Linked DNA regions of Homo sapiens: regions 1, 3 and 4 are each linked to region 2. Evidence: fine-mapped expression QTL. A gene starts in region 2. Each other region holds a variant in brackets. All regions are shown on one strand. Distances are between the middles of the regions. Region 1 holds the start of LOC105371022 (a long non-coding RNA gene). Region 2 holds the start of ADAMTS17 (ADAM metallopeptidase with thrombospondin type 1 motif 17). Region 3 has its middle 220 kb from the start of LYSMD4. Region 4 overlaps ADAMTS17 (ADAM metallopeptidase with thrombospondin type 1 motif 17).

Evidence for each region. PIP is the estimated chance that this variant, and not a neighbour inherited with it, causes the effect.
Region 1: its variant is the best candidate, but not a certain one, in a credible set for the expression of ADAMTS17 in thyroid (GTEx, PIP 0.64).
Region 3: its variant is the best candidate, but not a certain one, in a credible set for the expression of ADAMTS17 in thyroid (GTEx, PIP 0.74).
Region 4: its variant is the best candidate, but not a certain one, in a credible set for the expression of ADAMTS17 in whole blood (TOPMed, PIP 0.54).

Annotation. Positions count from the first base shown.
Region 1 is chr15:99,975,461-99,983,562 of GRCh38, reverse strand. It overlaps ADAMTS17 (ADAM metallopeptidase with thrombospondin type 1 motif 17), which reads left to right. Exons shown (of 22, transcript NM_139057.4): 21 at 7,341-7,518. It overlaps LOC105371022 (a long non-coding RNA gene), which reads right to left and starts at 7,340. Exons shown (of 2, transcript XR_001751713.2): 1 at 6,972-7,340; 2 at 2,789-5,053. RefSeq lists enhancers at 892-1,870, 6,680-7,275, 7,276-7,871. The variant T/C (reference allele first, on the strand shown) is at 4,116.
Region 2 is chr15:100,337,254-100,345,355 of GRCh38, reverse strand. ADAMTS17 (ADAM metallopeptidase with thrombospondin type 1 motif 17) reads left to right here and starts at 3,381. Exons shown (of 22, transcript NM_139057.4): 1 at 3,381-3,535; 2 at 3,947-4,317. The coding sequence starts at 3,457. SPATA41 (spermatogenesis associated 41) reads left to right here. Exons shown (of 2, transcript NR_028139.1): 2 at 1-899. RefSeq lists an enhancer at 4,529-5,047.
Region 3 is chr15:99,949,652-99,957,753 of GRCh38, reverse strand. No RefSeq gene overlaps it. Among named protein-coding and RNA genes, the nearest start is that of LYSMD4, 220 kb to the right of the region's middle. The variant A/G (reference allele first, on the strand shown) is at 4,765.
Region 4 is chr15:100,051,528-100,059,629 of GRCh38, reverse strand. It overlaps ADAMTS17 (ADAM metallopeptidase with thrombospondin type 1 motif 17), which reads left to right. Exons shown (of 22, transcript NM_139057.4): 16 at 5,576-5,733; 17 at 7,899-8,058. Among named protein-coding and RNA genes, the nearest start is that of ADAMTS17, 290 kb to the left of the region's middle. The variant T/C (reference allele first, on the strand shown) is at 4,397.

The DNA.
Region 1 (8,102 bases), 360 kb after region 2:
TAATTCTCAAAACATCCTGTTGGGATCTGGTGTTATTTACAGTTGTGATTTTACAGCTGGGAGAAGCTAGGGGAAGGGAATCCCGCTGTGGGGAAGGATGTCATCAGGGTAGGGGTGATGGAGACCTGGTTCCTCCCCTGTTGGGGGTGGTACGGGCAGGTGGGGGGCAGGGGCAGGCTAGCTGTGTGGCTTGGGAAGACTTACATGGACGCTCTGAAACCTCACATTCTGCCTCTCTGAAAGGTGGCGCCGCATCCCCAGCAGACACCACTTATTGAGCACCTACTGTGTTCTGAGCTCTGGCCACGGCAGCTGTCAGTGTGAGGATTAACAAGCTCGTACGTAAGCCCGGTCCCCCGTACACAGCAGACAGGCAGGTGGTGGGCCCTGCTGCGACGGTGACTGCCGTTACTGTTATTATTAAAGAAGCTAGTAACGCTTGCACAATGTCTCAGTATCACGCTGGTCTGGGGAACCTAACACCTTTTCTCTTTTTGCCGGAAACTCTACCTAAAGGAAAATCTCTTTTACACAGTAACTTCATGAAATAATTTGCACACAAAAAAAGCACATGAGTAAATCCAAATTGAACCTCTTTTTGCCCTTTGTGCATCAACAATTTTGTTCCTGTTTTTTCCAGTGACACCCCCTCCCTGCCTGGGAAGGGTGGTGGACAGATGCAGAGGCTGCCTCTCCACCGGGCAGCCAGCTCCGACGCACAGCTGTGGGCACCTGCTGGGGAGGGGGCTCCACTCACTTCAGGTTTCCCGGCAAGGAGCTTTTCAGCTAAATTTATTGCTGCCCCCATTTCTCTCAGTTACCTGCATCTTGGGAAGCCACATGAAATTGGATGTGATGAGCCCCTTGACAAAAGGACCAAACAAGACCAGATATGTTTTTTATAGATCTGTTTGCTTGGATGATTAAAGCCTGAAAAATGGCTTCACAGCAATGCTTGGGGCAAATTCGATGCTATCAGGAGACACTACAGTCTCCTCACTGTTCAATTAACGTTGAAGCCTTAGGGGAGGCCGACAGAGAAGGAATTCACCCCGTGCGCCCACCATGGCCCAGCTCAGGTTACGAGGGTGTCGTTCAACAGCAGCCCCTTCAGACCTGTCTGGAATCATGTTTGTCTTCAGGGCCAAAACAGCCTCTAATTGTGCTCCCTGAGGTCTGGCTGCCTGATCAACTCAGGGAGCCAGGCAGACAGGGCTGTGTGCACCTGCCTGTGGAGGGCCTGGTGACCGAAGGGCAGCCCAAGGAGTGCTAAGGGAGTGGGCCAGGTGACGCAGTGTGCCTTGCTGGGCTGCAGGAGCTCCCTGCCCAGCTCGCTGTGGCGCTTGGCCGTGCATTCACTGTTGAGAATAATAACAGCAGGATTTGTGGAGCTCCACTCTATCTGAGACCCCCGGCTAGGCTCCTATTCCACACTGCCTCTACTGCAGGAAACAATTCTACAAACAAGAGTTTGTTATCCTCATGCTGCAAATAAACTGAGGCTCAGAGAGGTTAAGTCATTTGCCTGAGGTCACACAGCTAGTAAGTGGGGACGTAGCATGCCAACAGGCACCCCTTCCCCCTGCCGCCTGACACCCCGCACTGCATGGCCTCTCCATCAAAACTCTGCTTTAGGAGAGTATATTACCTGTGGATTTTAGGCCAGGGCAGGCCTGGCAGCACCTCAGCTCAAATGAAAATGCAGCTGGTTAGGATGGTGGGCCACCAGCAGGTTACACCAGACTCATTGGCAGAATTCTCCAGTTTTATTTTTAATTATATAAGTAGCTCTTACTATAGAACACACTAAAAGGAAAATTAGTCCCAGAAACCATATGATGACATGGTAAATTTTTATAACGGTTTGTCTTCCAAACTGTTACATAGGTATACACACATCTATATTAAACAAAAACGGGGTGGTTTCTGTACATGCCACTTTGTAACTTGTCTTCTCACCTAACACATGGAAGCATCCTCTAGGGGGCTGGCCCAGACACAGCTCCAGGCAGTTAAGCAAACACCCCAAAATTCTCAAAAATTCTCCCAGGTGAGTCAGAGCCACTCATAGCCCACAGCTGTGTGAACAGTGCCCACTAGGACTCCAGCTAGAATTAAGCAAACCCTAATTCTGATGAGAGTAAAATGCCTACAAGGGGCAGAGCCCTTGGGACCACCTGCCCTCAGAACTGCCTCACACCTGGCCCTGCCTCATGGGGGCACTAGTGAACAGTGAGAACAGACACCTGTCCCTGTTGAAGGACTTTGGAGACACCCTTCCATGATCTCATGGAGCAGTTCTATTTATAGACTGGAAAATTAAAAGCCAGTGACCCATGCTAGGAAAGATAATGAGTAAATGGTGGAGATGGGCAGTGACCTGGTTCTTTGATTCCCGCTTCCGATTAAAGCTCCATTCAGTACAACCTCTTATTCACATAGGAGGGTGGAATTCATTCCATGAGATGGGGTCCCTGGACCACTCGCCACTCCTACCTCTGCAACTTTGAGCAAGACGTGGACCCGTGCCAACCTCAGTGGCCGGCATCAGCCCTGAGGATTGTTGTGGAACGTTCCGTGCTGCCGTGGAGGCCTACGAGGGGTCCACTGGGAAGAGCAGGCATACCATCTGCATATGCTGGAGACGTGCCACATGTCAGCCTTTTCCCCTCGGCCCCAGAGCAGGCTGCACAAGACTAAGACCTTTCAGAGGGGACACGTCTGCAAGGTCACCTCAAATGCCTGAGTTTTACGATGGTCATTGATCATTTCCAGGCAGAAACCTTGCCAATGCTGCACTTGGTTTTAATAGACGCACAGGGTGAAGCCCTTGCCCTTGTGTGATTTTCACATACATATCAGCAACACTCGCAGAAGAAACGGAAGCCCTTCCTGGCACTCCTGCAGGGCTGAGCCCCTTAACAGCAGTGATTCAGTGGGACTGACTCCCCAGCTGGCAGGGCACGGACACCTCTTCAGGAGATGCAGGGGAGTGAGGCGGGTTCCTCCATCCATCTGTGCAGTTTCCTCCCCAGAAATCCAACAGCCCCCTGCCCCATGCTCCTCTCTCCAGAAAGGAATAGGAGGCTGCCTGCCTTTCCCTCCTGGGTACATGTTTTGCAGTAGAGGCGGCACTGTGGCCAATGGCCCGAGAAAAGATCTGAAGAGAAAAGGGATGTTGGTGTTGCCTGCAGGTCGGCAGGCAGCAGGTGTATCTCTCTGTTTTTAGTTTTTACTTTTTTGAAACAGAGTCTTGCTCTATCACCCAAGCTGGAGTGCAGTGGTGCAATCTCAGCTAACTGCAACCTCTGCCTCCTGGGTTGAAGTGATTCTCCTGTCTCAGCCTCCCAAGTAGCTGGGATTACAGGTGCTCACCACCATGCCCAGCTAATTTTTATATTTTTAGTAGAGACAGCGTTTTGCCATGTGGGCCAGGCTGGTCTCGAACTTCTGGCCTCAGGTGACCTGCCCACTGCAGCCTCCCAAAATGCTGGGGTTACAGGTGTGAGCCACCGCACCCAGCCCTCTGTTCTTAAGTGGGCCTCATACGTGCCAAATAGTCACAGAAATTAACCCTGATTATATGGTAATCCCGTTTTCCCAGGAAGCAGGGTTTCTTTTGAATTACATAACACATTTAGATATAAAAGTCTCTAGTGATGTAAGTGGACTCATCAAATGCCTGCCATTAAGTAACTTATTGATGTAGTTATACATTCATATTTAAAGTTATGCATTATAAACATTCAAATTTAGAAATGTTGCTATTTTCCTTGGTATGTTATAAAATGGAGCCTTATGAAATGGATGCTTTGAGGTCAAAACAGTTGAATAGAAGCAGTTTTGTGTGGTGCAACCTGGTGATTGTAGTGTTGGTCTCATCGTCACCAGCTCCACTTTGAGTCGCCTGTCGGTTTGCCAGAGGGCACGTGGTTGTATCTGACTTCACTCAAATGCTGCCCTTTTTTCAGTCTGTCCCGCTCCCAGTGGACCACTCGCGTGGTTTTGCAGGGGATTGGCGTGACTTCGCTCTGCGTTTAGCGTTCGGCTCCGTGGCTTTGTTCCGCATTGGGAACGTTGGCTTTTCCCTTCATCTACCACATTTGTGTGGACTC[T/C]CAGTTTCTGGGTACAACTACTTACCAGATTGCTTTTGTAAGTGATTTTTTTTTTTTTTGAGATGGAGTCTTGCTCTGTTGCCCAGGCTGGAGTGCAGTGGCACGATCGCAGCTCACCACAACCTCCACCTCCTGGGTTCAAGCCATTTTCCTGCCTCAGCCTCCCGAGTAGCTAGGATTACAGGTGCACGCCACCACGCCTGGCTAATTTTTGTATTTTTAGTAGAGACAAGGTTTCACTATGTTGGCCAGGCTGGTCTCAAACTCCTCACCTCGTGATCCGCCTGCCTCAGCCTCCCAATGTGCTGGGATTACAGGCGTGAGCCACCGCACCTGGCCTCTAAAAAGAATTTTGACTGAAAGCCTTTGCTCCCTTACCTTTAGGCACACCTGTCATCTGGCTATAGACTGCAGTCAGGGCTGCGCCTGGATGTTGTTCTTGCTTAATTATACATATTTGTGTGTGCAGAGACACAACTACTCCTTAACAGGAAGAAAAGAGAGCTCTTTGCATTCTCCACAGGGACCTGAGAGGAGGTTCAGGTTAAGTCGGAGGCCCTCGGTTCTGAATGCCCACTGCAAGCACTTGGAGAGCTTTATAAACACTGAGCTCTGGGTCTTGGGACCCCCTCCACCATCGGATTGTATTGGTGTGGGATTTTTCAAAGCTCACCAGGTAGCTGCATGCAGTAGATCCCAGTGTGCAGCCAGCTTCCTCCAAGGTGCCCCCAACACCAGCAGGGCGGGAGTCGCGTTGCTGTAGCACCTGTCTTGTGTTCAAGGCGGGAACTTCCTTGTGTGACTTCATCCCTCAACCTCAGCACTCCTCAAACTTCCATGCGCCTGATGCCGACTCCTGAGGTCTGGGATGGAGCCCTGAAATCTGCATGTGTAATGCATGAATTTGAAAGGCCATGAGCTGCCTCCGAAGGGTTTATCTAAGAAAAGGAACAAGGCATGAAGTGGGGAGGCCCTAGGGTTGGCCTGGCCTCTCGGGTCAGAGCCCGGGTTCCAGTTTGAACGTGCCGGGGGCCCACTAGGGAGCTGCTTATAGTTTTCACACCTCCTTTGTGAGCTGAAAAAAGCAGTGCCCCTTTAGAGCAACATTCCCTCTGAATGTTTATCACTCTAAAGTGAAAAAAGACACACAAAACCTGAACCTGCTTGTCAGGCAAGGAAGCTGAGGAATCCACCTGGCTTGCAGAAGCCCCCCTGGGAGCAGACAGCCCTCCCAGGCACAGATGGGACACCACCGCCTCCCACGCAGCCTGTGTCTGGAGACTCCGCATGACCCCCAGGAAGGTCCTTTCTCCAGCAAGGCCAGGGTCAGGACCAAGAGTGAGGACACGGGAAGCACAGGATCTGCGGGGCACCTGCCTCCCTCACCACGTGTGGCATTCAGAGAACAAGGCTGCGCCCAAACCCTCCACGCCCTGCTCCCCTCTCTCCACCCCAGGTGCCATTCCTAGCTCCAGCTCGGCTGCTGTACCGGTTTTGCTGACTGCTCTCAGAACCCTGTAAATCAGGGGTTGTGTGGGCTCTGGTGGACACCAAAGTATACTCATGGACCTGGCTGTCTTCCTGGGAAGAGGCCAATGTAAGGGAGAAGAGACCATTCCAAGGGCTCCTGGGAGAAAGCAGGGGCCGAAAAGCTCAAGAGCAGAATCTGAGTAGAGGACTCAGATACCTGGCCAGTTCCTACCTGGGAAATGCTTTAAGGAGTGTGAAGAGACACCAGGCACGGTGGCTCACTCCTGTAATCCCAGCACTTTGGGAGGCCAAGGCGGGCAGATTGCCTGAGGTCAGGAGTTCAAGACCAGTCTGGCCAATATGATGAAGCCCTGTCTCTACTAAAAATACAAAAAAATTAGCCAGATGTGGTGGCAGGTGCCTATAATCCCAGCTACTCAGAAGGCTGAGGCAGGGGAATCACTTCAACCAGGGAGGTGGAGGTTGCACAGTGAGCCGAGATTGCGCCACTGCACTCCAGCCTGGGTGATAAAGCGAGACTCCATCTCAAAAAAAAAAAAAAAAAAAAAAAAAAAATTATATATATATATATATATATATATATATATATATATATATATATATATATGAAGAGGAGGGACGGAGAACAGAACCACGAAGTCTTAACCGGGTCCACTCCTTGGGAATTTGGGGGCCTCTGCTCAACTATGTTGACCAGGTTTTAGCAAACACGGCACCTCCTCATGCTGGGGCTGGAGATGCCAGCAGCCAGGGATGTCTAAATCAACACCGTCAGCCACATGTTAGTGCGTGACTCTGGTATGCAAGAAAGGTTGTACTTTGTTTTCTTTTACTTAATTCTAAGCCCCAATCCTCCAGGCTTGTGGGAAATTCAACCCCAGTCATTACTGGGCTCTTCTCCATGCCCAAGACTGGGCAAAGGCCCCGGAGCCTCAGGCAGCAGACAGTGCTTGGGAGACCTCTGTGGTCATCAGGCCCGGTCCTTCCTGGGGGCCACCAAGCCATGCTGCTCACCATCTCAAAAACGTCAGAGCCTGGAGCAGAGGCGAGCGGTGGAATGCAGCTAGCATGAGTTAATATTTCAGCTGTTGTCTTAACATCTTAGTCTCCCCTGGCTGCTGTCACCAAGTACCGAAGCCTGGTGGCTTAAACATTTATTCCTTACAGTTCTGGAGGTGGAGGATCAGAATCAAGGTGCTAACAAATCCAGTGCCTGGTGAAGACCCTCCCCGATTTACAGACCACGGTATCCTCTCACGGTGGAGAGCCAGCAAGCTCGGGTCTCTTTCCCTTCTCACACTATTCCCAGCATGGAGGCTCCACCCTCATGACATCTAACCCTACTCACCTCCCAAAGCCACCCACCTCCACGGCTCCAACATCTGCATTTTGCAGAGACACAAACATGTATTCCATAACATCTTGAAACAGTCTTCTATCAGGCAGCTGCTGTTTTTGCCCTGAATGATTGCAAGTGCCTGGGCATGACACACAGTGCCCAGCCCAGGGGCAGCCACATTGTGAGGCCATCGTCCCAGCCCCCTGACCTCGTGTAGGCCCCACTCAGGCTGTCCTGTCTCCGCAGTGCCACATTGTGAGGCCATCATCCCAGCCCCCTGACCTCGTGTAGGCCCCCACTCAGGCTGTCCTGTCTCCGCAGTGCCACATTGTGAGGCCATCATCCCAGTCCCTTGACCTCATGTCAGCCCCACTCAGGCTGTCCTGTCTCTGCAGTGCTCGTCGACCTGCGGGAAGGGCCTGCAGTCCCGGGTGGTGCAGTGCATGCACAAGGTCACAGGGCGCCACGGCAGCGAGTGCCCCGCCCTCTCGAAGCCTGCCCCCTACAGACAGTGCTACCAGGAGGTCTGCAACGACAGGATCAACGCCAACACCATCACCTCCCCCCGCCTTGGTGAGTGTCTTCACTGGCCCCGGTTCCCAGGGGGCTGCTGTGTCTCCTGCCCAGTAAGTCCTCCCTGACGGTGAGGTTCTTTCAGCCAGAAAGCCCCTTCTTGGGCCTCACTTGTCACATAAGGCTGACATTTGTCAGTTCTGTAGAAGAGGTTTCAGAGATGGATTCCATTCCTTGTTATGGAAGTGGTGTTTGCTTACTGCTGTCTCCAACACAGGCACCTGAGCGTCTCCCTCACCCCTTTGCCCAACACAGGAGAATGTTCCACAGACACTGTAGGTTTCCTGTGCATGAGGAATGTGAAGGGAAGTGCTTCTTTCTAGAAATGAAAGCTCCAGGGGCATCCTTCATGATGCCATGAGGATGCACACATGGGGCACACCCCAGGCTGATGCTTGAGCAGCAGACAGGCGTGGTTGGAGGGGCTGCAGACTGTGTGAGTGGTTTGGCCCTGGGTGCTCGGAACCTGGCCTCTTACCAGTTCATGCCCCAGGTCAGTGGTGATACAAGGAGAAGAAGAGCACTTAAAGATCTGGCTGGTTGTGGTGGCTCATGCCTGTAAATCCCAGCACTTTGGGAGGCCG
Region 2 (8,102 bases):
CATTCGTAAGTACAGAACGCTCAGAGAAGAGGCAGCAGATCTAGGATATGGAGCAGCAGCTCTTAAGGGCACAGTGGGAAGGTTTCAAGACTGAGGAGGATCTTGGATTTGGGTAGGGGAAGGCAGTTCACAGTATTGTGGAGGAAATGCTGTGAAAGAGAAAGTGGAAGGCATGGAAGCTTAAACTTTTAATATGACTGGTGAATACAAGGATGAAGGGCAAAGGGAATTCAGACTCATGGTGGTCAGATTAAGACCTTCAGCGGCTCTGTCTCCCAGCCCCACATACCCACTTCCATGTTCTGCTCTTTACTGAAGCTGAAAGTCTGCAACCTTCATTCTCTGACTCCCTTACATTTTCTTAGGCTTCTTGCTAGCTTCTGCCAAAAAGAGGCCCTGGCAGGAGATTAGATGGCAGGAGGCAGAGGTAAGGATTCCATGTTAACAGGTGCTGGAAGTTGCTGGTGTGGCAATGAGAACTGGGCCCCGGTCAAGGCAGCACTACTTTGGTAGATCCAGAATCAACCATGATAACCGTGACAGTGTCTTCAACAGTGCAGCAGTAGACACAGGCCCCTGGTGCTGGAATCCAATACAGGGACAGGAGCAGCACGGAGTCACGGAACACCGTCTTGCCTTCATGTCACTTTACCATTTCTTCTTTCTCCCTCTTACTCTACCAGCTACCTGTGGAGATGTTGAACCTTTTATCTGTCGCTGTCTGCTTAGGAACAGAAGAAAAGGCAGCTGATTGCTTGACTCAGCTTTCAGCTTGATTTTTTTCCTTTGGCAGAGTGAATTGGGGTCCCAGGTGTTCATTTTCCTTTTGTAGTACCTTTCCTCAGCATGCAATTAATACAAAAAGAACAATAAACCTTAACAAAGTTTGGCTTGTATTATTCCAGACTTTCCTCTTGGATTTTATGTACACTTATCTGAATCCATGCAGATCATGTCATGTGTGTCTGTGTGTTTATACACATTTTTTTTTCGGTGTGCCTCATTCTGCAACTTGATTTTTTAAAAAATTCGATAACTGATCTTGGAGATCTGTCCATGTTGTTACATATATGAGATTTTTGTATTTCCTTTAATTAATGGTGTTCAAGTAGCCGTTTATGTAACGATGAACATTCAGGTTTTTGCAATTTTTTGCTCTTAATAAGGTGCCCTGGTGAACAAACATTCTTGTACATGTGCCAGAGTTTCTCTGGAGTAATTAACCAGCGTGGAATTACAGAGTTGTAGAATGTGTGCATTTTTAGTTTTATTAAAACTAAAAAGTAAAACTTTAATTTTACAGTTTGCCCAATTGTTCCTCAGAGTGGCTGTGCCAATTTATACTCTCCACCCCTAGGTAGGAGAGTGTCCTCTCTAATTCTTGATTTTTCTAAGCTCTTTAATTTTGGTTAGTTGGGAGATAAAATAGTATCTTTCTGTTTTAGTTTTCATGTCCCTATGGACTAATTTTAGCATTTGAGCATCTTGGATAGGTTCTTGATAGGTTGGTGATGGCTACTTCAGGCTGACTTGCGCTTGTGAGGTGGTGTGGCCCATACTCCATGGTTTTCAGTGGCAGGCCTTAGAAATGGCTCTTTTTGACAAAAAGATTCACTAAGAAACTTACTGTGATATCTTTAAAAAAATTAATATTTTGTGAGTACGTAGTAGGTGTATATGTTTACAAAATGTATATACATGAAATTTTTTGATATGGCCATACAATGAGTAATAATCCCATCAGGGTAAATGAGGTGTCCATCACCTCAATCACCAAGGTTTCTTGTGCTGCCAGAAAATGCTACTGAGCTGTCAGTCATCTGAGGTTGTTGACCTGGACAGAGGCAAGGGGGAGAAACACAGCCCCAGGCCTGGCCAAGAGCAGGACCTGTGCAGATGCCCCCAGAACTGTAGGTGCCAAGCAGTGAGGGCAGCCCCTTTTGTGGCAAGCCTCTGTGGAGGGTCACTGTTCAGCCTTGGGGTTCATTATATTTCGGGGAAGGTGGCCAGTGTTATAGATTCCTTCAGATGATATGTAATCCTGTGATGAATTTAGATTCCGAGGCTTCAAGCAGCATCCAGCGGGGAACTATAACCTTTCTGCTATGATAAAATGGAAAAGAGCAGGACAGGGAAGGGACGGGAAACCTGAGATTGGTTATGGTTACACTTAATTGTTTTTTTTGTTTTGTTTGGTTTTGTTTTGTTTTTTTGAGATGGAGTCTTGCTCTGTTGCCCAGGCTGGAGTGCAGTGGCACAATCTCGGCTCACTGCAACCTCCACCCCCCGGGTTCAAGCGATTCTTCTGCCTTAGCCTCCCGAGTAGCTGGGACTACAGGTGTGCGCCATCACGCCTGGCTAATTTTTGTATTTTTAGTAGAGACAGGGTTTCACCATATTGGCCAGGCTAGTCTGGAACCCCTGACTTCGTGACCCGCCCGCCTTGGCCTCCCAAAGTGCTGGGATTACAGGCATGAGCCTCTACAAGATGCTATTCAGCAAGCTAATGGAGTCACCTTCCCTGCAGACCTCAGTTATATTGTGGCAGGAAAGGATCAACTCATTCTGTTTCTGGGAGACTCACGTTCAAGGCTAGGCTTTGGGACTTTGTGCCTCCGTTTCCTAACCTGTAACACTGAGTCCTGCTTCCCTCGGGGCGGGGGGATCCTGCTGTTAATAAGAAGCACCAAGCCAGAAATCAGGATCACAAATTCTAGCCTCTGCTCCAACAGGAACTCTCTGGGTAACTTCAGCGTTTTTCCTTAAGCTCTCTCTCTTCCTCAGTTTTTCAGTCTGTAAGAGGGTGTGAGCATGCGTGTTGCACTGGCTCCTGTGGGATTAAAGAAGACAGGAGGTGTGAAGAGTTTGGATAAACGCCGCGGATATAGCCTTCAGGTGCTAACTCAGGTGTGCGGGAAAGTGGACTGGGAGTCTTTGCGGCCACAAACAACTAAAACCTAACTTCAGATGTAAAGATTATATGCAGTTTTGGATGAAACCGCTTGGCCGGGGCGATTTCCGCCCTACCTTCCCGGGAAACTGGGCAGCAGGCTGAGAGAGTTCCAAAATGAGGACAAGCTCTGAAGACCAGCCCCGCATCCTCCAGCTCTTCCAGGGTCCCACGGCTCCGGTCGGCTCCCGCGCGCCACCTGGTGCCGTGTCCCCGCCACTGCCCAGAAACCACGTGTAAGAAAGCGCTGACAACCTAACTACGCACTGTGGTTTCGACCCATCCCAACCAGTAGGGAAGGAGGAGGCGGGGCGGAGGAAAGCGAGGGCCCAATCCCCTCCCGCCTTCCGAGGGGAAGGCGGGGCTTGGGGTTTACCACGTTGGGTTTGTCCGCAGCGCTAATTACTTTTTCCAAAGGCTGGAGGGCTTCACTCCGGCTGGCGCCGCCGCCTAGCGCGCTCCTGCTTCGCCGCCACGGTCCGGGGGGGCTGCCGGTCCCGGGTACCATGTGTGACGGCGCCCTGCTGCCTCCGCTCGTCCTGCCCGTGCTGCTGCTGCTGGTTTGGGGACTGGACCCGGGCACAGGTAGCGCCCCCTCCCACAGCCCTCTTCACCCCGCGTCCTGCGGCTACCTTCCCTCTGCGTTCTCGCGGCGTCCTGGCGGCCCGGGGGCGGCGGCGGGACCGCTGACGGCGCCCGAGCGGAGGAGGCGCGGGCCGCGGCCGGAGTACGGGAATCGGGTGGCTCCGTGGCAGGCGCGCCGCCGCCGGGTCTCCGCTCGCCGATGCGCGGCGCCGTTCCGGGAGGTGCTCGCGCGGCTGCGCCGGAGACCCTCCCCGGGTGGCGCGGGCCAGCGTGGAGGTGCCGGGCGAGGGAAGGGAAGGCAGCGCCGGCTCCGGGTCGCGCTGTCCCCGCGCTGGCGCGGCTGGCGGCCAGCGGGAGGGCGGGCGTCCGGGCGGGCCCCGCCGCGCTGACGCGTCTCCTCTCTCCCCGCAGCTGTCGGCGACGCGGCGGCCGACGTGGAGGTGGTGCTCCCGTGGCGGGTGCGCCCCGACGACGTGCACCTGCCGCCGCTGCCCGCAGCCCCCGGGCCCCGACGGCGGCGACGCCCCCGCACGCCCCCAGCCGCCCCGCGCGCCCGGCCCGGAGAGCGCGCCCTGCTGCTGCACCTGCCGGCCTTCGGGCGCGACCTGTACCTTCAGCTGCGCCGCGACCTGCGCTTCCTGTCCCGAGGCTTCGAGGTGGAGGAGGCGGGCGCGGCCCGGCGCCGCGGCCGCCCCGCCGAGCTGTGCTTCTACTCGGGCCGTGTGCTCGGCCACCCCGGCTCCCTCGTCTCGCTCAGCGCCTGCGGCGCCGCCGGCGGCCTGGTACTGCCCGCGCCACCTCCGGGTCGGCCCGTCCGGTCTGTTGCGACGCAGAGTGGTCGCCGTGGAGGGTGGGGGTGGGGCGCCTCTGCTGGAAGTCCAGCCTCCAGGGGAACCGGAGGGAACCCCCTGCCTTTCCACCTCTCCCCATCCCCCACCCCGGCCTTCGGTACCCTCTATAGGCAAAGGGGGTGGGAGGGGCAGCATCCCAGTCCAGCGCCTCTGCAGCCCGTGGAACCCGCGCGGAGCTGGGGTTGCGTGGGGTATACGCCGCCCGCTCTAGGGAGCGCAGATCTGGCAGGGATGAAACTGTCAGGGCCCTGGACAGAGGCGCCTTGGCCCCAATGTAGAGAACACTGCATCTGCACCGCCGTGTCAAAGTGTATGTCACGGGAGTACCTGTGTACGTGTAGGTGTTATGTTCTTGGACTTGGAGGTGGGGGAGTGGGCATTCACCTCCCTTCCTTTTGAGTCTTCTCTCTGTACCTGGAACAGGAAGTTTGGAGAGGTACCCAGACAGGCCACGGCTCACCCCACTCTTCCTAGCTGAAACGTAAGAAACAGGAGAGAAAGGGTGTTTGTCTTTGCTTCCTTATACTATTAGTAGGCATTTATCTGGTGCCCACCCCCAACCAGGCCTGAGGGGTGTTTACATTGGTGATAAACCCTATTCCTGCCCCCAGGAGCTCCCTTGCTGTGGCAGTAACTTCCCTGCCCCGAAGTTCCTGGCCTGTTGCATTTGAGGCACCCGGAACAGGTGCTCCCAGGGGGAGGGGGGGTTCTTGTGTGCACTTGCCCTGCCTGCGCGCACACTTGATCATGTGGCTACACTGGCGCCCAGACGAGCACTCAGCTTCTCCATCGTGCCCCGAAAGCCGCACACATGGCCGGCAGATGGGCTGCCCCCAGCGAAGCTTGGTATGGACCCAGAGCATGAACCGCAGGGGTTCTCTGTCTTCTGTCATGACTGGCCTCTGGGGAGGCAGTTTCTGATATTAGTTTGTGTCTGTCCTTCCCAGGCACAAGAAACTGCTCCCCACACCTCCACCTTTTCTTGTGCCACCATCTAGAATTCTCCAGCCCTTACTCACAGAGTCTGTGGCGAGTCCTCGAGAATCTACGAAGCTAGAAGGCTGGGGGTGCAAGGTCTTATGTGAGACCTCTCTTTCTTCCCAGTCCTGCGGGTATCTCTGTGTGTAGTTTCCTAGATCAGTCTGGCTCTCCTTTCAGGAATTTTCTGAGTTCTGATTAGGGTATGATAGACTTTTGCTCAGCTGGGAAAAATAGGCAACTTTGGTGAAACAAGGAAAGTGATATAGACCCTTGGAGGGGGCCTGGTAGGAAGGAGCTAATGTGGACCTGGGGCGGGGAATGTGGACCTGGGGCGGGGAATGTGGACCTGGGGCGGGGAATGTGGACCTGGGGCGGGGAATGTGGACCTGGGGCGGGGAATGTGGACCTGGGGCGGGGAATGTGGGTTGTAGGCAAGGAGGCTTAAGTAGGAGTGAGAAAGGCTCAGATCACTGTAGGGCTCGGGTCAAGGCTGTATCATGTTCTGGGAGGGACTGGAAGGGCCACATCATTTTTCCTGTTTTTGCCAAAGTGTTTAAAGTCTAAGTCACATCATTGTACTGTACATGGAAACATCTGAATCCCATTTGCTGCGGTTTAGTGAGTTTCTGTAGAGGTCAGAGTTTATACTTCTTGGTGTAAAGTTTCCAGCAAGGAGCTATCTGTGAAGGCGCCGAGGTGGAAAGCTGGATAACATTGATTTAAAATCCTTGCAGAATGAGGGCTGGGCCCTGTCATAGATGGCATCTCAGCCAGCTTCTCGGCAAGACTGTCCTTCCCTTTAGCACCATGTGAGGGTGCTGTGCTTTAGATAAAGGAACCTGGCCAACAGGCTGAGTTCAGTGTGTGCCAGTGGCGGTTGTACCTCTAAGACTTCAGCTTTTAAATTCCTGCCGGAGCAGACACTTCTGTTGTTTAGTCTGCCTTGTTCATCCCGTTCGTGTGAGCTGGACATTGGACACTTCCCCCTCTGTACGTACTGAAGGCCGGAGGGAAGAGACAGTGGGGTGACTTGGAGGTGGACCCTTTGTTTGCAAGGTGGTCCTGAAAGCGTAAAGAAAAGAAAGCAACAGGAATTTGGGCTAACCAAGTTTGCATTGCAGACTAGCTTTGACTTTGGTTCTCAGTTCAGGTGGCTGATGATGTTGTGTTAGTCCCTCTTGACTGTGGTACTGTGGTAGAAGCTCTGTGAGTGGAGATGTGGAGTTGTGTGTGTGTGTATTTGCTACGACAGGCTCGGCTATAAGGTGTGGGAAGGGAGGCTATAAGTAGATGATTTTTGGTGGCCATGGAGGAGGGGCATTTCGAAGTGTCCTTGTATCTAAAAATGAGCAAGAGTCGGGCAAACTTCTTCTCTTAAGGACCAGAAAATAAATAGTTTAGGCTTTGGGGGCCACATAGCCTTTGTTGCAGCTGCTCAAAGCTGCCCTTTCAGTGTGAAAGCAGCTACAGCTACGGATGGCATACGAGCGAATGGATGTGGCCACGTTCAACAAAACTTCGTTCCGGATGTTGAGTATCATGTTAATTGCTGGTAAGTCCCACTGTATTGAACATCTCCTAAAGGGCTCAGTAGAGAGTGTTGAGTGCCTGGGCTGGGGGCACACACGTTCTATTCCATGTTGCATGGAATCTGTGCTGTTTGTCTCCAGAGATGTTTGCTGTCTGTTTAAAGGAGACGAATTATTAGAATAGATCATTCCGTAGCTGTTTAGGGGCCATGGAGAGTAAAGCACCTGTTCCATTTTTGCTCCTTTTCCTTTTGACAGCAGATAGAGGCATGGGCCTGCCGCATTCCTTTCTTGGTGTCTTATCCTGAAAAGCTGGGCCAGCTGCGCCTTTTGGATCTTCAAAGGCCATAGACTTAAGTATTAATTGTTTTCTGTTTATGCTTCTTCATTGTATTTACATTTCCAAGAGTCTTTAGAGCATGGGTTTTTTGGAAGTGTTTCTATGAGCATATCATTTCAAAGCATGAACTTCAGGTGTCTGAGGAAGGCCTTTACACTCTTCGTGAATTTATGTAAGTTCGGATCAGCTGCCTCTGTGATCAGGACTGGATCGTGGAAGGCCAGTGGAATTGGAATCAGGCTGAACTTCATAGGTAGACAGGATAGCGGAGAGGGCACTTCAAGAACAGCATGAGCGTCAGGCTCTGAAAAGAATCTTTGCAGCTTGTCTGAAGTGAGTGGCTGGAGGACTTGTTTTAGGAAGAGTGAACGAGAGGAGGGGAGGGCTGGAGGCCCCCTGCTGTCGGGTTTGGTCTGCCAAGCAGTGGCCATCCTTTCTTGGATGATACTCACAAAGCTTGGGAAGGCCACCCACTGGAATGTGTCCACCCCTTCTTGGAAAAAGCTGTGGCCTGCCAGGGGCACACTGTGAGATGGTGGGACCAGACAGACCACCAAGGAGCTCTGGGCTGCAAAACATTAAGCCATAACCGCGTTCCAGGTCACCTTGAAGGACTGTGAGAAGGTCAGGGATCCACGTTCCAGGCCACCTTGAAGGACTGTGAGAAGGTCGGGGATCCTCCTACCATAGCTCTTCTGTTGCCACAGCCACATGCTGTAGGACTCTTATTTGGAATCACTGGGGTCAGTCTGGTGGCCCAGCCCACCTCACTCTGACTGGTCAGCCTGACTGCAGACCACGTGTCCATGTTGGTAGCACGTCATTTGTGGCACATGGGACATTCATAGTTCCGTACAGCTATTCCA
Region 3 (8,102 bases), 390 kb after region 2:
ACCTCATACATCATATTGAAACTACAGAGATCAAGGAGGAAGAAGAAATCTTAAAAGCAACCAGAGAAAAGACAGGCACCCTGGAAGGAATAACAGTCTGACAGCAGGTGCCAGAGGGAATGGAATAGTATCTTAAAGTGCTGAGAGCGGTCGTAGCCGTGGCTGTTTAGTTCAGCTATTAGCATTCCATGGAACAGACTGTGGGGAGCGCCACTTCCTCCTTCTCCAGAGTCTCCCACAATTGACAGCGGACATTTCTCAGAATCCCGGCTCCCGCCCGGGGACTGTGTGTCTCAATGAGTGGCTCCACCTTGCTCCGTTTTTACAAAAGTGAGAAACCTGAGAGCCAGCCCATAGACAGAACCTCCCCAAGTCCTGTCACTTTGGTTTTTTTTCCTTTTTTGTAGAGATGGGATCTCACTATGCTGGTCTCGAACTTCTGGCCTCAAGGGATCCTCCTGCCTTGGCCTCCCTAAGTGATGGGATTACAGGCGTGAGCCACCGTACCCAGCCCATGTCCTTTGTCTTAAATTCCCACATGTCCATCCCTGTGGGCACTGCTCCGGCTCAGGCCTGTTGCAGGAGCCGCCTGGCTCGCCTTGCTCCCTACCACCTCACCAATACCAAAGTCACTCTTTTCAGACCGCTAACAGGGGCTCCCTTTACTGCTTCCTACTCAAAGCTCTCCCAGCTCACCCTTCAGGCAATGTGCTCCCCCTGTTGCCCCCTGCCCATGCCTGGGATCCCCATTGTTCCAAGCCAGGGGTCTACAAACCAGGGCTCACCGGCCACACTGTTTGGATACCCCCTCTGCCCAGTCCCTGGCTGTGGGGTCATTCCCAGCTGTGCCACATGATCGCTTTCAGCAAAAGCCTGCAGGTAACTCTGGGTGCCACACTTCTGACTACTCTGAGAATCGCATCCAGTCTGCTCTACCCCTCTGTATAAGTTGATCCTTTAGAAAGGCATAGGAATTCCAGGCAAGGACAAAGCCTCTTTCCTGTGGCCTTGCGTGTTGTTCCAGTCCTTCCCGGAGCCCTTGTTCTTCCGTGCATCCCCCATACCACAGCCCACACCACCCCTCCCCACATGCCTTCCTGGTGGGCACCAGAGCTTCCCCTTCCATTCTCCACAGTCTCTTTCATGCCACACCCTGGTGGGTGCTAGGCAGGACATAGGCTGGGTCCAGGTTCCCCCTCTCAAGTGGCATGAGGCCCGTGCCCATCCACAAAGGACCCCCAGCCCCACCAGGGATGAGAATCCAGGGCTGAGGTGCAGAGCCACGTGGAGGCCAGAGAGCTGTGCTCCTGGGTGTGAGGAGATATAACCATGTCTTTTATTTTCTGTTTCCTGATGCTTTGACATCTGGGGCCTTGCCAACCCTGAAGGGATGGCCCCTCCCAGGACTATTTCCTAGAGAGAATAAAGAACTCACCCCCACAGCGTGCTCCTCAAATGTGAGCCAACCAATCCAGAGGCCACACCCCTGGCCACACCCCCATCCTTCCAGCCACCCCCACCTCCCCGCGTTGCCCCAGGGCGAGTACCAGGCAACTAGAGACAGGCCCAACACCCCAAAGCCTGCAGAAATTAATCAAACAGGCCAATCCCTGGCCTGTCTACCCTGCCTTGCCCAGTCCTTCCCATGGAACCACAGTAGAGGCTCTTGTCCATGTTTTATTCCTGCTGCCTCTGCCTCCCGCCCAGTCCTGTGCTTCCTGGCACGACCCCCCATGGCACACTCCCTTGTCTTGGGAACTGTGAGTAACAAACCATCTTTTCAAGGGCAGCTGCCTCCTGATCTGTTGGTCCTGCTGTTCCTCACATTCTCTCTTAATGTATATTTTAAAACAGAGGGTAAAGAAGAAAGTGGTCAGGACTCTTGGGAGGATTAGAGACAGGAACATGGGGCCTATTTGCCAGGACGGGTGGGTTCTAAGGGAGGGGAACAGATGGGTCATGCGTTACGTCAAGGCAGGTGGTCAGCAGCTACCTCCTGCCCTGCCACGCCCCACCTACCCACCCTCGGCCTGCCCGTGGACTGCACTTCCTCCTCAGGTTGGAAAATAAGGCAGACTCTTCCAGGCTCTCTTCTAAAGGAGAGCACACCAATAAATCAAACACCAAAGTATGCCTTCTTCTCATTTTATTCTAATGCAAGCATCCTGGAGTCTTCTGTACCTTCTATCCATGCACCCTGCCCTCCAGCCCTCTCTCTGTAAGGCTATGTAACACATGGCCTTGTCTGAACCAAAACTGCCTCCCAGAGGCTGGATGGAATGCTGGCTGCAGGGTCTGGGTCCTGAGGCAGATTGATGGGTGAACCCATCTCAAAATGAGATCCTGCTTGGCTTTGAGTCATGAAGCCCCCTGAAAGTAATCCAGGACTGTCGGCCACTCTACAGAGTGGGTGCAGCCACATTCCACACCAGGAAGACCAAAGCCAGAGAGGCTGTCACATCTCTCAGAGCCACATAGCAAAGAGTGATTCACTCTGCTTCATGCAGTCCATGGAGACTCACAGAGGAGAGGACACCTGAAGGAGAAGTGAGGATCTGGCAGGCAGAGGAGAGGAAGGGCTTTCTGGACAGAAGGGACAGGCTGTGCAAGGGGACAGAGGAGAGTGGGAAATCGGTGGCACATGAGGTGCAGCATTGTGGGGTTGATAGCAATTGAAACCGGAGGTCCAAAGACCAGCATGTTTCCAGTTTTGCCCCCCGCCTCCAGGGCCCACCACAGGGCCTCGTGCAGATGAAGGATTCAATAAAGATTTCCTGATGAATGAATGAGTTTAAGACACAGCCATGGACAGAGACGTGGGACCTTGAATGCCAGACCAACAGCATTTTGCCTTCTGCTCAGAGTGGGCCAACTGGGCTCCAGGCAGAAAAGGACACCTAATTAGACCTTCTTGCTTCTACAGAGATCATGCCAGGATAGCCAGGGGTGTTTCTGGGCTAAGCTGGATGAGCTGGTTAAGCCATGCTCTTGAAATAAATAGCTTGTACTGTTTGTCCCCCAAGGACAGAACATGCTTCGTGGAGCCTGTCTCATTATTCCTTGCAACATACATATGCAAAGCATTAGCGGGCAGATTTCCCAGCTCTGGCTTGTTTAGAGAGTGAAGATTTTTGTCAAGGTCACACAGCACATGAGGGGTGAAACTGAAAGCAGCAATGACCCTCAGCCCCTTGTCCTAACCATGTTCTTCTCTGATGCTTTTCCCCCTTGCTTCAGCCAGGGGCCAAGGCTGACCTACCAAATCATGACTCAGCTCCTATCTGCGGGTTAGGCCCAGGACAGGGTCTCCTCCTCCAGGCTGGGATGCCGGCTCCCCACAGCGGAGTGTAACTTGCTTACTACGGTGTGGCTCTGTCCTGCAGTGATTGTCACCTCTGGGGGCCAGGCAAGATTCAAGCCCCTGAGGGGAGAAGGAGATGACTCATGTATGCCTGAAAGAAAGCAGGAAGGAGGTAGAAACTGGACCCAAATGGAAGAGCCTGGCCTAGCCCCTTGGGAAGTAACCAGAAAGCTTCCTCACCCAGCAGACCTCCTTGACCTCCAGAAGGCTCCAGCATGCTTATATGATTCCCAATTCTCATTCCGGCACCAGAAAGCTGGCCTCTCCGCTCCATTCCACAGTTTTAACAAATATTGAGTGAGTTCTCATACGTGCCAGGCACTGCACTGGCCACCATGCACGTGGCAACTTCCACATCCATAATAGCATGGGCTCTGTGTTAAACACGTTAGAAGTCAAGAGATACAGTGGTAGACATGACAGACACAGCCCTGCCCTCGTGAGTTTACAGTCTGAAATCGTTGTATTTCAGAGAGTCAGGGCAATATAGTTTTGGAAAGACTACAAATCCTAGTCAGAGAGACCTGGATTCAAGACACGGGCCTAGCTTCTCACCAACTGGTTACTAAACAATGTGAAAATGGAAGTTTGGACTGACATCAATATGCAGAGATACCATGTGCCCAAGACAATACCTGACCCCAAACCATCAAACCAAAACCCCTTACCCATGGGTATGGATGTAAAAAAGCTGGGCTTTGGTGATTAAAATATTTCTTTGGAGATAGCCACTGGTGTGCCTCGTTCCAGCCCTGCCAATGAGGAGATGGTACCTCCCACCCATCTTGGGCCTAGAAAAGAAGAGGGGCTACATGGAGACCTCAAAAGGGACTTCATACCATACACGTACCCAGATGTTTAGGCAGCATAGTGGATGGGTACCTGGCTCACAGCTGAGAAATCCAGATGGAAAGAGATTGGCCCTTTGTTGGCTGGGGCTGCCAGGACAGAAAGCCACAGAAGTGGCTTAAACAAAAGAACTCTATTTCTCATAGTACTGGAGGCTGGAAGTCCCAGATCAAGATCCAGCAGGGCTTGGTTTCTGGCGAGGGTGCTCTTCCTGGCTCTCAGACAGCTGCTGTGTCCTCCCATGGCCTTTCCTCTGAGCACTCTTGGAGAAAGAGTGAAGGAGAGTTCTCGGTGTCCCTTCTCATAAGGATACTAATCCTACGGATGAGGGCCCCACCCTTATGGCCTCATTTAACCCTAATTACCTTGTTATAGGCCCTGTTTCCAAATTCAGTCACACTGGGGGTTAAGGTTCAACATATGAATGGGGGGCAGGGGGACAATTCAGTCTATAGCAGGCAACCTAGCTACTTTGATGGCAGAGGAAGGGAGGTAGCTGCACCAGAATCAGCCTGCACTTTCAGAGTGTGTCAGAGTAGAGACAGTGGGGGGCC[A/G]TGTACGAGAGACAGCTGATGTGCGGTGGCTTAGGTCCTGTCCAAGGGGACTGTGTGGTGAGGAGACAATAGGAGAATACCAGCTGTGATCCACCAGCGTCCCTGGAGCTGAAGAAGGAGTACTAACCGCAAGTAGAGAAAAGCCCATCTTCTACATCAGCCTGCAGGAGAGAGATGTCAGCAGATAACAGGGTGATGGATGTGTATCTCCAGGCCACCTATGAACGTGCTCTAGGAGGCAAAGTTAGCTCTGAGCACTTGCAAGGCCCAGAGAACAATCATATTTGATAGTCACATCAGTATCTGCCAAGAAGGAACCTTCCTGGTCCCCTTTCCCCTCCACCTGCCCCCAGCCCATGGAAGACAAAGAATTCCCAGGTGGGGAAAGCTCTAACAGGCTTACTGTGGACTCTTCCCCCAGGCAATCTTCCTCCTGAAGCCAGAAGAGAAAGAATAGATTCAACTTTAAACGAAATTCAGAGTTGTATTATGCCACGAAACTGGATAGTTTTATTACTGAATCGAGACCATATTTTGCAACTTAAGTTGACTTGAGAAAGTTGACTGGGAAACTATTTTTATTACCTTGGAGAGACCAAAAAAATTCATGGACCAAAACTTTCATCCAGGGTCAGGGGAAGAACCAGCCCCAAGAATAGATTTATAGAGACAGTGAAGAGGTGGCAAGAACATGCTTCATGGGGACTCCCCCGACCTGGAATTTGTGTGTGTTCAATGCCACAGGTACACATGCTACATGGTTTGCCATCTTAAAATAGGGATAATATAACTTGCCATGGAATATTGCTCTGAACGTTAAACTACATATGTTAATGTCTGCAAGACACCTAGGACAGCACCTGGCACTCAGTAGGTCCAAAGACATGGTAGCCAGTGTGATTGTTGTTGGTGATAGTGTAGCAAGAGCATTAAGAAGTACCTAGAGGTTAGAAGTCTCTGCAACTCCGAGCTTGCTTTGTGTCTTCTCCCTCCAAAGTTGACTCTCATGTTAAGGTCAGTTTCTAGTACTATGGAATTCCAAGGAAGTTCCAAACTGCAAGGAAATCTGACCTCTCTCTCTCCCCCAAGCCCAATACAACATTTGAATTTTATGTGGAAATCTTAAACCTCTCCTTCTCATTTGGTCTCACTTGGAGCTTTGAAAATATAAGATATGCCATATATGGTTTCTCCCCAGACTCATGCCGAACACTAGTCACTGTTTTCCAGAAACCTCAGCATCTGCTCAGCTATCTAGCCCCTGGGATCACTGCGAAATTGGACTAATACCAAGGACCGGTTACCACAGTACGTCATCTACTCATGAATACTGTTAAGTGAGCTTGGTTTCAAGAAACCTTAAACCTTCAATGCATAACTCAATTCAGTCTTTTCTTGGCATTCCAGAACATGATTAATGGTGACGCCATGCCACAAATAAGTTATACATGGCTCAGAACTCTAATTCACAATTGATTAGTCCATGAACAATAGCCCTGAGTAACGTAGTGTTAATGGCCAGCCCCGGTGGTCTGTTCCTACCAGAAACCCATTACTAAGTCCACCCTGTGTTTTACAGCATCCCTACTGGAGCCCAATATCTGCTTATGGGGGCAACTGCTTTGTTTAATGGTTGCTAGCCACGTGCAATTAGCTAGAGTAGAACAGACACTTTAGAGGTTACTGCTTCAGCCTCCTAGTGAGAGGATGGGAAATATGATTTTTTAAAAAGTCAGTTTGCCTTCAAGTGGATCATATTCCCACAGACTGGGAAATAGATGCCTTCACATTGTGCTTTGGATGAGGGCAGGGAGAAAAGGCAACCTGTAACCAGTGATTTCCAAAGGCAGCAGGGGTCACTGGCTGCATGGGCAGGAAGTGAAACTCTTACAGGCCTGCCAGGTGGAATGGAAGGATGTCTGAAACTGTAGGGAAGGAAGATACATCAGACAGTGAGAGGGAATGAATGTGAAGACAGGGGGGACAGGTGGCAATGAAATGTGAATCCACATGAAGAAATAAACAGCACTGATAAAGGTAACTACATAGGTAGATATAAAAGACAGTACAACTGGAATTTTTGTAACTCCTTTTCTCCTATTTGTTTTAAAATAGGAGAAAACTATATGAAACAAGCCTCTGTCAATGGACACATAATGTATAGAAATGTAATTTATAATAAGAGCATAAAAGAAATACACTGTGACCTATATGAGAAAAAAAATCAAGAAACAATCCCACTTAATATCAAGAAACAATCCCACTTAATAATATCTATCAAAAAATAGAAATAATTAAGGAGGGCAAAGATCTATACACTGAAAACTATAAAACATTGATGAAAGAAATTGAGGAAGACTTCAATAAGTGAAAAGATATCCTGTGTTCCTGGATTGGAATAAATAATATTGTTAAAATGTTCATACTACCCAAAGTGACCTATGGATTCAATGCAACTCCCATCAAAATTCCAACGACATTTTTCACAGAAATAGGAAACAATTCTAAAACTCATATGGAACCATAAAAGACCCAAATAGCCCAAGCAGTCTTGAGCAAAAAGAACAAAGCCAGAGGCATCACACTACCTGACTTCAAAATACACTACAAAGGTATAGTAATCAAAAGAGCATGGCACTGGCCCCAAAACAGACATATAAATCAAGGAAGCAGACTAGAGAGCCCCAAAATAAATCTACACATTTGCAATTGATTTTTTCCACAATGATGGCAAAAATACATGATGAGGGGAAGGACAGTGTAAATTAAATGGTGCTGGGAAGACTGGATAGCCACATATGGAAGATTGAAATTAGATCCTTATCTCACACCATATACAAAAATAAAATGCATTAAAAACTTAAATGTAAGACCTGAAAATGTTAAACTATTAGAGGAGAACATAGGGGGAAGTTTGATGACATTGGTCTGGGCAATTATTTTTTGGATATGACCCAAAAAGCACAGGCAAAAAAAGCAAAAATACACATATGGGATTATATAAACTAAAAAGTTTCTACACAGTAAAGAAAACAACCAACCGCATAAAGAGACAATTTACAGGAGAAAATATTTGCAAACCATACATCTGATAATGGTTTAAATCAAAAATATCTGAAGAACTCAAGCAACTCAATAGCAAGAAAACAAATAACCTTATTTGTTTTTAGTGAGCAAAGGACCTGAATACACATTTCTCAAAAGGAGACATACAAATGGCCAACAGATATATGAAAAAATTTGCAACATCACTAAACGTTAGAGAAATGCAAATTAAAACCACAGTGAGATCTCACACTTGTTAGAATAGCTATTATCAAAAAGATGAAAAATAACAA
Region 4 (8,102 bases), 290 kb after region 2:
AAAATGATCTTGACGTCCCAAAGGAATCTCTGAGGCTGACATCTCTTTTGAGGGATGTCAGGCGCGAACTTCTGATTTTAGCAGGAAGTTATGATTTTTCAGATGGACCACGGCAAATTGCAAATTTGGAATCTTGCTAAGTGACACCAAAGTGAAAAGGTTGGAAGTAACCCCTATGCCTCCTGGCTCTGCTGACCTCCTGCTAATAACTCTGCCTGTGTTTTCCTCTCCCCGGGAGATACACAAATGCGTGGCTAGGAGCACGCTGTCCCGAGGAGAGGCGTGCAGGCTCTGAGCTGGAAAGCTGCATTTGCAGTGCGCCAGAACTTGCAGCCACTGCGGCGATGGCCACAGGCAGTGCGTGGGCATGCCAAGTGTATTCTTTCTGGGGCTGTGAGAGCTGACCCCAAACCCACGCCTGGCCTCAAACAAGTTGTGATTGTGCAGGAGTTCTCCAACTCATCGGCTCCAGACCAGGACCTCCAAAGCAAAGACAAGCATCTTCAGAATTCGTTGGAGTGCCCCCACAGCTGTGTGTGGCTTGTGAGAGCCAATTAGAGGCATCTCTTCCCCACTCCTTGTTCACTGATGCCAGGTGGATAGCAAAATCTGTCATGGTGAGGGTATTTACACTTTGGGAAGCAAATACGCCATGACTCTAGGCTATTTTCCCCAGAGAACCGGCTGCCGCTAGCACTCTGTTGTCCAGTATGTTCCTTCCCATCAGCAGTTGAGCTTGCCTGGGTTTGTCCGTCAGCCGCAGCCTCTTTCGCTTTCCTATCCCACAATTCCTTGACCATACCCAGTGACTCCTCCGTGGCCTCCAGTAGCCCTCTTCCTGACACCTCTCCCACCCATTCCGCTACAGACAAGCAAGACCCCGCTCCGGTGATCAGAGGATGGCAGGCTCCAGGGCCCTAGTGGCTCTATCTCCACCTCGTGCTGTAGTTGCTGCTGCTGCTGCCGCCCAGTGTCGGGCCTCCGATGGCAGAAGCAGGGCTTCCCCAGGCCAGCCGCCACCTCTGTGCAGCGTTTCTGAGGATGGTCTTATAACCGTCTCCAGGTGTGCCCTCCTGCCCTTTTTTGGGCCTTTTCACTCTTGACTTCCCAGATGTTTTACTTTTGGCATGGAAGTGGGGTAGTTTGTAGGTTGTCATTCAGAGTCACTTTAAAACATCTTTAAAAAAAGGGCCCGAGGAATACATAAACAAGGCCAGTGGAGAAAGAGTCACCTCCTCAGGAGTGTTAGAGCTGGGATAGGAGGGTTAGAGCCGGGATAGGGGTGTTAGAGCCGGGATAGGGGTGTTAGAGCCGGGATAGGGGTGTTAGAGCCGGGATAGGAGGGTTAGAGCCGGGATAGGGGTGTCAGAGCCGGGATAGGAGGGTCAGAGCTGGGATAGGAGTGTTGGAGCCGGAATAGGGGTGTTGGAGCTGGGATAGGGGTGTTAGAGCCGGGATAGGAGGGTTAGAGCTGGGATAGAGGTGTTAGTGCTGGGATATGGGCAGAGGCCCTGGAGGGAGTTTGAGGCAGGGGTGGAGTGTGCCAGGCCTTCTGCCTCTCAGGGGTACTCAGCTGGGTGGTAAACATCTGGGGCCTATTTATAGGAAGCTGTAATAGTAATTTTCTTTCCTCGCCTGTTCTGCCCTCATCGTGATTAGCTTTTTTTTAACCCAACCTCCAAAAAGCATGTGTGAATGCCAAACCCAGCTCTCAGTTGCTGAGCACCAGCTTCAGGCACTGCTGGATCCAGGGGCTTAAAATGATGTCACAGGAGAAACGGTTTCTCTCCGCACTGGCACTCCTGCCTGTCCTCTCTGTGGACATCTTCCTGTGGGCTGGTAGATCCAGGCTCACATCCAGTCTCTGGGAAACCCTGTGGGAAGAAAGCTGCCTTTTCCTAAGGTGAACAAAAGTCCCCCTGTTTGGGGTTGGGTGATGGGCCTGTGCCTGGAACTGTGGGGTTCAATCCCACGTGACGGGAGGGAAAACATGTTCCCAGGAGAAACCCTGGGTACCATTGCTTAAAGGGAGAAACAGATGCCGTGTCATGGGCACAGTGGGTGTTCACAGAAGCAACAAACCAGGGACGAGCCTGGGGCCCCAGCTCAGGGCAGCCCGTGTTGGAGTCTGTCACTGGCAGGGTGTGGATATGGGACTCAGCCGGTCCGTGCTGGTGGCCCAGCAAGGAGGAGAGCAGCTGCCTGGCTTCCCTCTGGTCTTTGTGAGAGAAATGGGTTCTACGGAGCAGGCCCTGGTGTGGCTGTGGTCAGCACACAGCTTCAAAGAAATCATTTGCTCATCTCTGTCTCCTTTGTACAGGGCACCTCAGCATGCCTGGGTGTCCTCTATCCTCACAGTGAGCCCCTTCCTTCTTCCCACCCTCTGAGGCCACTCTCCCTCTCTTGCCTCCTTTTCCCAGCCAAACCTCTGAAAAGTGGAAAAAACTTTACCTTCCACTTGCTTCTCCATATGGGGTGCTGTGCCTTCCTCCCTCCATCACCCCGCCCAGAACTGATCTTAGCAGTCCTGGCCTCTGAGGATCAGGAATGACCGTCCTGCCTCACACACTGCAGGCAGCCACACACCACTGAGCCACACACTGCGGGTGGCGTTGTCTCCTCTCCCTGTCTTACACGCTCAGCTGAAAGCGGGCTTATCCCAGGAAGCCTTCCCCATCTGCCCCGTCCCACAACATTCCCAGGCCCCGGAGGCACCTTACCATAAAGCTTGTGAAATTGTGTTGTGTTCATCTTTTCTCTCTCTCCCTTCCAAACTGTGAGCTCCCTGGGAGCAAGAGCTGTGTCTGTCTTTAGCCAGCAGTGAGGAGGCCCTCAAAATAGGCTGAGGGAATGGCAGGGTACATCTGCTGTTCCCCCAACTTATGCTTTCTGAGGTGTTTCTTCAAGCAGAAGTCCCCAGACCCCAGGTTGCGGACCAGCAGTAGTCCATGGTCTGTTAGGAACCAGGCTGCACAGCAGCAGGTGAGTGCCCTGCGAGCGAGCATGACCGCCTGAGCTGCGCCTCCTGTCAGATCAGAAGTGGGACATTAGATTCTCATAGGAGCGCAAACCCTATTGTGAATGGCACGTGCAAGGGATCTGGGTTGTGCATGCCTTATGAGAATCTAATGGCTGATGATCTGAGGTGGAAAGTTTCATCCCAAAACCATCCCCCGCCACCCCACTTCCCCCAACCCCCTGGTCTGTGGAAAAATTGCCTTCCACGAAACCAGTCCCTAGTCCCAAAAAGCAGTCCTGGGGACTGCTGTCTTAAAGGACTCTGGCCCCTTGGTTTTTTCTATCTGCTCCTTCCCACCAGCCCACACTGGATCCTAAAACCAAATAGACACATGCATATGCAAGAGACAATTTTCTAAACCTGCAGAAAGCTTGAAAGAATGATGAACGTCCATGCACCCTTTGCCTATATTTGCCTATAGTTAATATAACCAAGTATGTATTTGCATTATTAGCTCACTAGAAGCATTGGAAATCCGTGAAATCAGTCACTGTTGTAAGGGTATATAGAATATGAAACCCTGTAACAGAGCGTAGAATTTGTCCTTTTTGAAAACAGGCCTTACCTTTGCACATTTCAGCATTAGTCATAAAATCTAGACTGATGCTAAAGAAATGGGAATTGAAAGTTGTCAGAGTGATAAGTGCAGTAGGGTTGGTCTGTTGGATTCAGGTCTCCACTCTACAACTGAATAGCTTTGTGATTTTGGGCAAGGTACTTCTCTCTGCCCCCATTGCCTCACCCATGAAGTGATGACAATAATTCAGAGGGTTGTTGAGAAGATTAAATGGGTCAGAGTATATGAAAGAGCCAACCTAGAGAATATGCACCTTAAATGGCAGTTTGCAGATGGTGGCAGAAGAAGAGAAAAAGGAGAGGAAACTGTGGGTGTCCCAACATTCTCACCTCCTTTTCATAGCCAGGACAGTTCAGTTGTGGGTTGGATTTCTTGAAGGGAAACAGATTCGGCTCCAAGTGGCAGGGCTTTCTCTTTCCTAAGCTGTCCCTGGAGTCCTATAATCCTCAGCCTCTCATAGCCACCCTGGATACGAGACCCCACTGGAAGCCACTCTGCTGGAAAGTTCCTAGAAGCGAGGAACCTGTTTCTCTTGGCAGTCCCTCTAACACGAGAAGCCCTGAGCCTGCGTCTGTGTGTTTGCCGGGAGCGAGCAGTGGGACCATAATGTCCTGGAGACAAGAACTGAGGCCAGTGACTACCCAGCGACCCTCTGTTGCTTGTGGCCTGCTCCAGCCTGGGGCTGATGAATTCAGCAGTAACCAAAACCCCTTTTGGGTTTCAACTCTCATTTTCCAAAATCAGTATTAAATGTGGGCATTTTATTTCTGGCCTCAGTAAGCAGAGAACAGTCAATGCAG[T/C]AGAATCTGATTTCATTGATATGGACTGAGTAGGGTCCCAATGAGATATATGTAGATCAGTTTGGGGTGTCCTTGGGGCTCCAGTTGTGTGTACAGGGAGTGTGGGCATAGGACTGAGGGTGCCCTGGAGTTCCCATTTTGGGAAATGACAGACTTACTGTCACCTCTTGTCATCTGCCGACTTCTCCTAAAATGCCAGAATAGGTTTTAGTTGTTGGGATTTTTTTTTCCCTAAATAACAGCAGCAACAAAATAGGATGTCACTGCAGAGTGCTGTCCTCATGAGAACCACATGATCTTCACCCCGAAGTGGGAAGACACAAGAAAAATCCTGGTGAGCGACTCAGAAAATAGTAAATACATGGCTTGTGTGGAAAACCAAGTTTCTGCTTATGGCCCGTCAGCAGCATGTTGATTCTCAGCCCCTCCTGGCACAGGCTGTCCCTGGTAGAGATGTGGGTGAGCAAACGTGAGAACCTGAAGCCCACAGAGCTAGGGTGTGAGAGTGCCTCTCCCCTGCTACGCTCAGCCCCCAACCACTGCTCGTCCACAGCTGCCAAGTGTGACCACCACATCTGTGGGTGGCTAGGGTTTCCAAACCTTCATACTTAACAGAGTAATGGTTATTGATTGAAGGGACGTCCACTTTAGTAATGGGGGGATATCAGATCCTTAAGAGGTGCTGGAGATGGGCTCTTCTCCTTCTGGAACCCCAGGTAGGTAATAGGAAAGGGAACTGATGAGTTTTGCTAAAGCAGCAAAACCTGGTTTGTAGCCTGGGACACATTAAAATGGAATGAATTCATCAGGCAGAAAACCATCTGCTGGATAAGTTTAGTGAAATGATATCAGACCATGGTCTTCTCCATTCCCTGCCCCTCCACCCCTAACCCCAGCTATCTGAGTTGGTTTTGAGACAGAAGCCCAGGCTGAAAGGTGCCCATCAATCCCACAGCTCTCCCTGGGGATCCTAGGGGTCTGCATCTCCGTGCTCCCTGCGATCCAGGCTTTTGTTCTCAGTATACAGAGCACTCGCCTTCTCTCGCTTCAGGCCTCCCTCCTTCCCCCTGTGGAAGGGAGACCTCTGCCCCACTCAGGGGCTGTAGATTCCGTTTAAAGACAGGCTGGATCCCCCTACCCCCAGCCCCTTGATTCTTTGGTCTTCAACTTGCTTTCTAGCTCTCAAAGACTCGGGTAAGGGGTCCATCAACAGTGACTGGAAGATAGAGCTCCCCGGAGAGTTCCAGATTGCAGGCACAACTGTTCGCTATGTGAGAAGGGGGCTGTGGGAGAAGATCTCTGCCAAGGGACCAACCAAACTACCGCTGCACTTGATGGTAACTTGCTGGGCTTCCACACTTGTCTTAGGGGGTGTGGCTCCGAGAGGTCTACTAGGTTACTTTCCAGTTTACTTCTGCCTGGGACCTCGGGGGCAGGAAATGCATCTGGCTTCCAGGGGTTTATGCCGTCCCCTGCTGCTCAGTCCTCTCCCCTCTCTGGGTCCTTTCTTTTCCAGTCCCTTGCACAACTTGCTTCAGAATTCTCTCATTGCTTCCCCTGGCTCTTCCCTGGCCGAGCTCCTATCTTTTTCAAAAGGAGCTGCCTCAAAGAAGGAAATGCTTAGCCACGTGGATGGCAGCCAGGGAGACTTGGCCTCATTAAGCAGACAGCCCCACTCCAAGTCTGTTTTTGCATCGGTTGGTGAGATGCATAGATCTGCCTGCACAGAGTGTATATCATTACCTTTCGGAAATGAACTATGACTCCAGGTCCGAACTGGAATCCCTCAGGTTTCACAGACCCAGCTTGCAACGAGCATTTGGGAATCAGGGAGGGGGATCAGATGATGTGGGTATTCTACTCCCCAGGTGACCTCCAGAAACCTGTGAGCCATTGGGCCAGGCCAGGGCGCCGTCTTACCTGTTGTCTCAGGGAGGCCTCCATGCAAGCCACTGAAACATCAGTGATGCCTCCTTTTAAACATGTCAGAGATCTCCAGGGAATGGAGCGCCCTGCTTCCGTCTCAAGATCCAGGAGTTCTCATGGCTAACTTCTGATGGCTCATCATTATCGATTCCGGGTCTCCTTCCAAAAAACAGGATTTGTGGCAGCTTGTGCCCCTGTAATCAAAACACGCTTTGTCCACAGTGCCTGCCAGAGTCTCTCCGTGGAAGTTCTTCTTCCCCGTTAATTTGTGATCTCTGGCAGCCTGTAAGTGTTCCAGGTTAGTTGACACCCAAAAGATTTTCTAGCCATTGCCCAGGGAATCTCCTGAGGAGGCTGGCTCTGCCGGGGAGCGCTGGCCCCCAGGGTGGGCGTTGCCCCGTAGTGGTGTTAACCCCGTTAAAATTTCTGGGGAGACAAAGGTAAGGCAGTTTTCATGTGCAACCAAACCATGTAGAAATCTGCCAGCGCACCTCTCAGCCCGCTAAGTCCACTGCAAATACGTTCCTGCAAGTAGGTTTCTGGGACCCAAGAATGTGTACCTAAGTCATTTATCTGGGATAAGATTGTTCCCTAGTCACAGTCAGAACAAATCCTCCTATTCTGAGTTAAAAGCAGTTATTCAGAGGGACTAAGAGAGGAGGCAAAACATAAAACCTGTACTGAAACTTCACCTGTTAGCATGAGAATTTGCTTTCTCTAGCAAACACCAATGTGAATGTATTTCCCTTTTCACCAAAAGCCTTTGTAAACTGAGCAAGTGGTTAGCCCGTTAAAGTGAAGTCCCCAGCCTGGATTCATTCAGACCAGGATGAACAAAACTCGGAGAAAGCAACTACTACCGTAACTGAAGTTTCAGCCCTCGCTTAATATTGATGGCTTTTCTTTCAAAATGTGATTGTCACTTCAAGATTTTAAAACTGAAAATGAGAGGTGCCCCTTTGCCTCTATATAGAAAGCCATGGTCCCCAAACTGGGGTGTACACATTGTTTGCAGAATCAGTATCACCAGTGAGCTGCATTTTGCCCTTGAGCTTGCCTTACTCCTGACTCTGGACCAACTGACACAGCAGTGATTGATGATGGGGAGTGAAGGAAGATGTTCATTTCCAAAGAAATAGAGTCACCCCAATTGCTCTGATGCCTTTCTAGGTAAAAGTTTATCTGTGTCTTTCCTGTCTGCAAGGGCAGCTTTGTGGGTGAGCATGCAGGAATGTGGACTGTTCTCTGCGTGACGCAGCTCTCCATCAAAAGTGCAGTGAGAGGTTTCAGAGTCACTTATCCTAAAGCTCCTAGTCTAAGCTGGTCTCTCTCTTGGGTAGGAAAGAACAGAACTCCCTCACGATGGTTTGCATTCACCCCACTCCTCAGTTGAGTCCCTGAGGAATCCAGGGCTGAGATAAAGGAGCACCCTCAGTGGAACCTGTTTTCAGCCCCAGAAAAGAGCTGGTTACCCCTCATAAAGAAACAGCCGCAGTGTGCCTGTGTGTGCAGATTCGGCATTCCCACGGGCCTTCCTTCCTTTTCAAAATGGCCTTTTGTTTTGCGGCTGATCCAGGTGTTGTTATTTCACGACCAAGATTATGGAATTCATTATGAATACACTGTTCCTGTAAACCGCACTGCGGAAAATCAAAGCGAACCAGAAAAACCGCAGGACTCTTTGTTCATCTGGACCCACAGCGGCTGGGAAGGGTGCAGTGTGCAGTGCGGCGGAGGTGAGTGGCCGTGGTCCATGACCTGTTGGGTGTGGGGTTTTGCT